Linked DNA regions of Homo sapiens. The protein of the gene in region 1 purifies or fractionates together with the protein of each later gene. This does not show direct contact. Each region holds a gene or a part of one and is shown in the gene's direction. Other genes may lie near its edges.

The links. The genes of interacting proteins can lie anywhere in the genome.
Region 2: the proteins of RPS6KB2 (region 1) and DHX9 purify together in Homo sapiens (affinity purification with mass spectrometry, with the first as the bait; 2 studies listed by BioGRID). This does not show direct contact.

The regions. Positions count from the first base shown.
Region 1 is NC_000011.10:67,426,974-67,430,723, forward strand, and holds the start of RPS6KB2 (ribosomal protein S6 kinase beta-2), read left to right. Parts: upstream 1-1,520; 5' UTR 1,521-1,572; coding exon 1,573-1,650; intron 1,651-2,008; coding exon 2,009-2,049; intron 2,050-2,146; coding exon 2,147-2,267; intron 2,268-2,553; coding exon 2,554-2,622; intron 2,623-3,750. UniProt on the Homo sapiens protein: Phosphorylates specifically ribosomal protein S6. Seems to act downstream of mTOR signaling in response to growth factors and nutrients to promote cell proliferation, cell growth and cell cycle progression in an alternative pathway regulated by MEAK7.
Region 2 is NC_000001.11:182,877,202-182,880,851, forward strand, and holds part of DHX9 (ATP-dependent RNA helicase A), read left to right. Parts: intron 1-819; coding exon 820-972; intron 973-2,048; coding exon 2,049-2,209; intron 2,210-3,295; coding exon 3,296-3,407; intron 3,408-3,650. UniProt on the Homo sapiens protein: Multifunctional ATP-dependent nucleic acid helicase that unwinds DNA and RNA in a 3' to 5' direction and that plays important roles in many processes, such as DNA replication, transcriptional activation, post-transcriptional RNA regulation, mRNA translation and RNA-mediated gene silencing.

The DNA.
Region 1 (3,750 bases):
CTGCAATGAGCCACGATCTTGCCACTGTACTCCAGCCTGGGTGACAGAGTAAGATCCTGTCTGAAAAACTAAACAAAACAAAGAAAAAAAAACCATAAAGTTTTTTTTTTTTTTTTTTTTTTTTTTTTTTTTTTTTTTAAGATGGAGTCTCGCTCTTGTTGCCCAGGCTGGAGTACAATGGCATGATCTTGGCTCACCGCAACCTCCGCTTCCCAGGTTCAAGTGATTCGCCTGCCTCAGCCTTCCCGAGTAGCTGGGATTACAAGCATGCACCACCATGCCCAGCTAATTTTGTGTTTTTAGTAGAGACGGGGTTTCTCCATGTTGGTCAGGCTGGTCCTGAACTCCCGACCTCAGGTGATCCGCCTGGCTCGGCCTCCCAAAGTGCTGGGATTACAGGTGTGAGCCACCGTGACCAGCCAGGTTTTCGGGTTTTATCTGTTTGAGACTTGGTCTCACTCTGCCGCCCAGCCTGGAGCGCAGTGGTGCAATCTTGGCTCACTGCAACCTCTATCGCCCGAGTTCAAGCGATTCTCCTGCCTCAACCTCCCGAGTATCTGGGAGTACAGGTGCGCGCCACCACACCCGTCTAATTTTTTGTATTTATAGTAGAGGCAGAGTTTCATCATGTTGGCCAGGCTGGTCTCCAACTTCTGACCTCAAGTGATCCACCCACCTCGGCCTCCGAAAGTGTTGAGATTACAGGTGTGAGCCACCGCCTCCGGCCTGTTTGTTTTTTTGAGACAGGATCTCACTGTGTCACCCAGCCTGGAGTGCAGTGGCACCATCATAGCTCACTGTAACCTTGAACTCCTGGCCTCAAGTGATCCTCCCAACTTGGCTTCCCAAAGTGCTACGATTACAGGCGTGAGGCATCGTGTCCGGCCTCAACAACGTTTTTTGAAGTGTCTATTCTGTACCAGGTGCCTAAATGTGCTTAAATTAAGAAGGGAGTAAACGCCAACAAAATCCCATATTTACAGGTCTATCACTGACCCCCAAAACCCTATTTAAGGCGGGAACCTGGCAACATAGCCTGGCAGTGAGCTGGCCACTCAGTAAATGCTCCGATTTGCAGGGTCCTCGAGCCAGAGGCACTTTGAGGAGACCCTGATGCAGCCGCCTCCCTTTCTGGAGTGAACCGAAAGCAACGCGACCTGCCTTTCATCACGCAGCCGGCCTGGCAGTACCCGTCTCCAACAGGGCTGGGGATTGCATTTACATTCACACCTGCATACACTTCCGACCCTGCTCCATCCAAACTCAAAACACCGTAGAACCAAAACGGGCTCCCAGAAAGCCTTGCTGGGAAGACCGAGGGTCCTGCGGAAAGGATTCTGCAGGCTGAAGGCTAGGCGCCTCGCCACTCTAGGACTACAATTCCCGAGAGGCCTTGCGACGGAAGCCATCTTTGTTCCCCACCAGGCTAAGCGATTTTCCGGAGGGGGAGTAAGATCCCTTGCGTCACCGGCGCGCGCAGCTGCCGTCGCGGAGAGATGATGTTTAGGTCCGGGACTGTCAGTCAGTGCGCGGCCAGGTACGGGCCGACGGGCCCGCGGGGCCGGCGCCGCCATGGCGGCCGTGTTTGATTTGGATTTGGAGACGGAGGAAGGCAGCGAGGGCGAGGGCGAGCCAGAGCTCAGCCCCGCGGTGAGTGCCCTGCCCTGGCGCGACTGGATCCTGGAGCCGATCCTGTCACCCAGCCGAGGCCGGAGCGGCGGCTCCGCACGCCCAGAGCGGGCTCCGACTCTTTGCAGACCCAGATCCTTCTCAGATCCCGGTCTCTATTAAGTTCTGATCCCACCCTCACCCCGACCTCTCTTCCAGAACCCCAGCCTTTTCTCCCGATTCTCCCTTTCCTGCCTTCGGTTTCTTCCCAATTCTTACCCATCCCCTACTAGCTGCCATCCCTGACACCCTTCTCTCCTGGGCCACGCAGTCCAACCTGAACGGGAGCGGGGAGGTATCCTGGCACCTTCCTTGGCTCTTACCCCTCGGTTTCTCACAGGACGCATGTCCCCTTGCCGAGTTGAGGGCAGCTGGCCTAGAGTGAGTGAGGGTCGTGTTGGGGGAGGGGGGAATGGAGTGGGGAAGGGGAACTGGGGAGCACTGGAGCCTTGTCCTCATTAACTCCTTGTGTCCGTAGGCCTGTGGGACACTATGAAGAGGTGGAGCTGACTGAGACCAGCGTGAACGTTGGCCCAGAGCGCATCGGGCCCCACTGCTTTGAGCTGCTGCGTGTGCTGGGCAAGGGGGGCTATGGCAAGGTAGGGGCGGGCGCACCCTCCTCCTGGCCTCACAGCCTCCATCTGGAGGCAGCAAAGGGTTCTCAAAACAAATTAGACTTGTGAATCAGCAGGGCCTCTAATGGGATTCAGAGCCAGAAACATAAAGGAGGGAAGGCCAAATCCTCTCCAATCGGACTTGAAATCTTCACTGCCCCACCCTTGGCAGGGCCTAGGCCTCCTGATCCCAAAGCCAGAGCTTCAGGGTGGGGCTTCTTGAAGATAGGATGTGGAGAGGGAAGTTGATCCTGTCTCCCCTGCCCTACAGGTGTTCCAGGTGCGAAAGGTGCAAGGCACCAACTTGGGCAAAATATATGCCATGAAAGTCCTAAGGAAGGTGAGTCACTCGTTCAGCCAACGAATACTGTGTGGCTGCCATTCCCAACATGCTGTACCAGGCTTTGGGAAGACAGCAGGGAACACAGTGGAGGAGGATCCCTGACTTTGGCGTTTGCTGGTTTATTGTCTGTTGTGATGTGTATTGTCTTGCAGTAATTCTCAATGGGGGCAATTTTGACTCCCAGCAGACATTTGACAACAGTGTCTGGACACTATTTTATTTTATTTTTTTTTAAGACGGAGTCTTGCTCTGTCACCCAGGCTGGAGTGCAGTGACGCGATTTTGGCTCACTGCCACCTCTGTCTCCCAGGTTCAAGCGATTCTCGTGCCTTAGACTCCGGAGTAGCTGGGATTACAGGCGCTTGCCACCACACCCAGCTAATTTTTGTACTTTTTTGTAGAGGTGGGGTTTCGCCTGGCTGGTCTCTAACTCCTAATCTCAGGTGATCTGCCCGCCTTGGCCTCCAACGTGCTGGGAGCTGGGATTACAGGCATGAGCCACCGTCCCTAGCTTTTTTTTTTTTTTGGATGGAGTCTTGCTTTGTTCCCCAGACTGGAGTGCAGTAGTGCACTCTCTGCTCACTGCAACCTCTGCCTCCCGGGTTCAGGTAATTCTCTTACCTCAGCCTCCTGAGTAGTTGGGACTACAGGCTTGTGCCACCACACCTGGCTAATCTTTGTATTTCTATTTGTTTACCTACTTATTTTGAGACGGAGTCTCACTCTGTCACTCAGGCTGGAGTGCAGTGGTGCGATCTCGGCTCACTGGCAACCTCCACCTCCCAGGGTGAAGTGATTCTCCTGCCTCAGCCTCCTGAGTAGCTGGGATTACAGGCGTGAACCACCACTCCTGGCTAATTTTTTTTTTTTGTATTTTTAGTAGAGATGGGTTTTTGTCATGTTGGTCAGGCTGGTCTTGAACTCCTGACCTCAGGCTATCCGCTCACCTTGGCCTCCCAAAGTGCTGGGATTACAGCCATGAACCACCGTGCCTGGCCTAGTTTTTGTACTTTTTAGTGGAGGCAGGGTTTCACCATGTTGGTCAGGCTGGTCTCGAACTCCTGACCTCAGGTGATTCGCCTGCCTCAACCTCCCAAAGTGCTGGGATTACAGGTGTGATCCACT
Region 2 (3,650 bases), on another chromosome or scaffold:
CCATACTATAGCATGCTGTTTGATGAATAAAGATGACCAGTGTTTAGCACATGACAAATATCCTACCTTGAAGGACACTCCTTTAAGGATTAAGGGTCTTCATTTTGGTATGAGATGAGCCTGGAAAAATATACCAGGAGACATTCTGTGTAGATACAGGAATTACATGGTAATTGATAAATTGAAAGGACAAAAAAGTTGAAACTTGGTTATATCTGGCCAACTTGTACCCCATGACTTCTCTTTATAATTCCTTAGTCTGTCCTGACAATGAAAACAATTTGCTGCCAACATCCATTTTAGGAAATGATGAATAGCATTCTGTGCCAATCCCAGTCATTTAGTGGCAGCTGTCTCTGTATGTAACATTGAAGGAATCTGAGGTTACTTGGGGGTTCAAATGGACCACACAGGCATCACTAGATACAGATATCCTAAAAGTTACACTAAACTTTGGAATAGAGATGACTTAAATAATTACTTTCTTTTGTGTATGTGCCATATTCCATTTAAATGCTTTGCATTTGTTAATTTATTTAATGTTTACCAAAAAAACTATAAGGTAGATAATGGCATGCAAAGTTTGGCCAAGGCAGTTCAGCTGATAAGTGGCAAGTGGATGTTACATTGCCTTTTAGTAGGTTGACAACTAGGAGTTTGCAGTCAGATTGCTGATTCTTACTTGTGCCATTCATGAATAGACATCACAAGTAGGTATGGCTTTAACTACATAGTGGAAAGCATTCACTACTTAGTGGATATATAATAGTTATTGATAATACACATGAGTCTTAGAATTAACCACTTTTTCCTATGTAGGCAGAAAGTGAAACTCTTCACTGCTCACAACAATATGACCAACTATGCTACCGTATGGGCATCAAAAACAAACCTTGAGCAACGGAAAGGGCGAGCTGGCCGAGTACGGCCTGGATTCTGCTTTCACCTGTGCAGCCGAGCTCGTTTTGAGAGGTAAGACCCATTCTTGACCTTTAGTAAGGGATTTTTGTTCTGTTCTCTGTAGGGACAGATGTGTGCAGTTATGTAAACCTGCCAATATAAGCTGATCTAAGTCTTGCCAGCCATGTTGGAATCAGGTGTAAATGTTTCGTAAGAATCTTCATCACAAATCATTTAGAGAATAAGCCAGATTTAGAAATATAGAGACCTAGATTTTAATATTATTTGTGCCTAATACATTGTATAACACTAAGTGGTTACTCCTTAGGCCTGCATTTCCCTCATTCTATAAAATATTAAGTTACTTAACCTCTCTTGTTTCCTCAGTTGTAAAAAGAATATAAATAATGCCTAACCCATAGGGTTGGTATAAGTATTAAATGATTTAATAATGTAAAATACTTTGAACAGTGTATGGCACATCATGATCTCCCAATAAGTGTTTGCTGTTGTTAATTTATACAGGTCAGATATCTCTTTTAAAACTGAAATGCTTGGGACCAGAAGTGGTTTTGGATTTTTTTTCTTGGTAATATTTGCATTGTATTTACCAGTCGGGCATCCCTAATCTGAAAATATGAAATCCAAAACGCTCTAATGAGCATTTCCTTTAAGTGTCATGTCAGAAGTCAAAAAGTTTTGGATTTTAAAGATACATCTATAAGAGCCTTTCTAGTGGCACTAAAATTACATGAACTAGGAAGGTGGGAGGTTGTAGAGAAATGTTAGTATGAGTTATCATCCTACAAAAAGTCTTGTTGTCGTTTTTAACCCATGTTTGTCAACAGGCAAGGCCTGAAGAGACCATGGGTGGAGCTAATAACATTCGCGATTTTGGATAATTTTTTCATTTTTCTTCTCAGCCTAAAAGGCTATCAAGCTGTGAGGATAAGTCAGAAACCACTATGCAACCAGATTAAATTTTGTCAACAGTGTGTATAGTGAACGATAAAAGGTCCGATGGTAATTGTAAAATAAAAGGATGAGGAAAAGGCAGCTCTGTATCCCTGATTACCTTGCTGCAAAAAGTTTATTAACATCTGTGTATACACAAGGAGGATGGTTATTTTATGCTTATTTTCTCTTAGACTTGAAACCCACATGACACCAGAGATGTTCCGAACACCATTGCATGAAATTGCTCTTAGCATAAAACTTCTGCGTCTAGGAGGAATTGGCCAATTTCTGGCCAAAGCAATTGAACCTCCCCCTTTGGATGCTGTGATTGAAGCAGAACACACTCTTAGAGGTACTTACAAATACAAACCTACTTGACGCAGATATTAATCATACCATCTGTCTTGTTCTGGCAGATAACACTTACAAATGAATCAAGATGATGAAGATGTAGTCAACAGGGCTGTGATAATAATAGTAAGGCCTCCAGTCTTACCTTAGATAGTTAGTATAGTCACTGTTCTAATGAGCAATGAGAAGGAAGAAAGGGACAATGTGAGTCTTTAAAAAAGAAAAGAAAACTTAAAAAGGCATCTCTTAACTATGTACTAAAGATCAGAACATAACTTACTCATGATACCCACAGTATTTCATATGAATCTCTTACAACTTTTTTTGTTTTTTTGAGACGGAATCTCGCTCCATTGCCCAGGCTGGAGTGCAGTGGCGTGATCTCAGCTCACTGCAACCCCCACCTCCCAGGTTCAAGCCATTCTTCTGCCTCAGCCTCCCGAGTAGCTGAGACTACAGGCATACACCACCACACCCGGCTAATTTTTATATTTTACTAAGACAGGGTTTCACCATGTTGGCCAGGCTCTTCTGAAACTCCCGACCTCAAGTGATCCACTCACCTCAGCCTCCCAAAGTGCTGGGATTACAGGCAGGAGCCACTGTGTCCAGCCTGGAACATTTATTTTTTCTTGCTAAACTTGTTAGAGGTACAGTGAAAATTAAGGGCATTGGAGCTAGATCTGAATTTGAATTTTGAATCTAGCATTTATCTACTATGTAACTTCAGAATTTTCTCTAGATTTTATTTTTTTTAAAACATTAACAGCTGGGTATCAGACTTCTTATGGCATGTAGAAACTTACGCTGCTATTATAGTTAATACTGTATTTATAGACTTCATATGAATTGTATTTGTTTTTATAACCTACAGGATTTAGTTGTAGTACCTTTATGTTGGGTGCTCCAGATTTTGATTTTGTTCTATTTTTGAGTACAGAGAATTGTTGGCCGTAGACATGGTATTAGCGATTGGCTTGACAAAAGAGGAACTCTAAACTGTCTTAACCTTAATTTAGAGTAATGTTTTGTCTGCCTAAAATTAGTGTTCATTTGTTTCTGCTCACAAAGAACTATCTCCCCACAGAGCTTGATGCATTAGATGCCAATGATGAGTTGACTCCTTTGGGACGAATCCTGGCTAAACTCCCCATTGAGCCTCGTTTTGGCAAAATGATGATAATGGGGTGTATTTTCTAGTAAGTGCTTTGTTTTATTTCTCTTCGTTAAGTGGCAGAATAATTTCAGAATCTTCTCCTCCCTGTAAAAGCAGTATTGGCTCAGATAGACAAAAAAAAAATCCTAAATGTTCTTCAGGGAAGTAACATACCTAGATATTGAGAGCAGTGTAACACTAAAAAAATGAACAGTTCCAGTAGGTGGATATCTGGGCCCAATATGGGGAAAAGGGCACTGATTTCTCAAAAGTTAAAAGCAAGCAG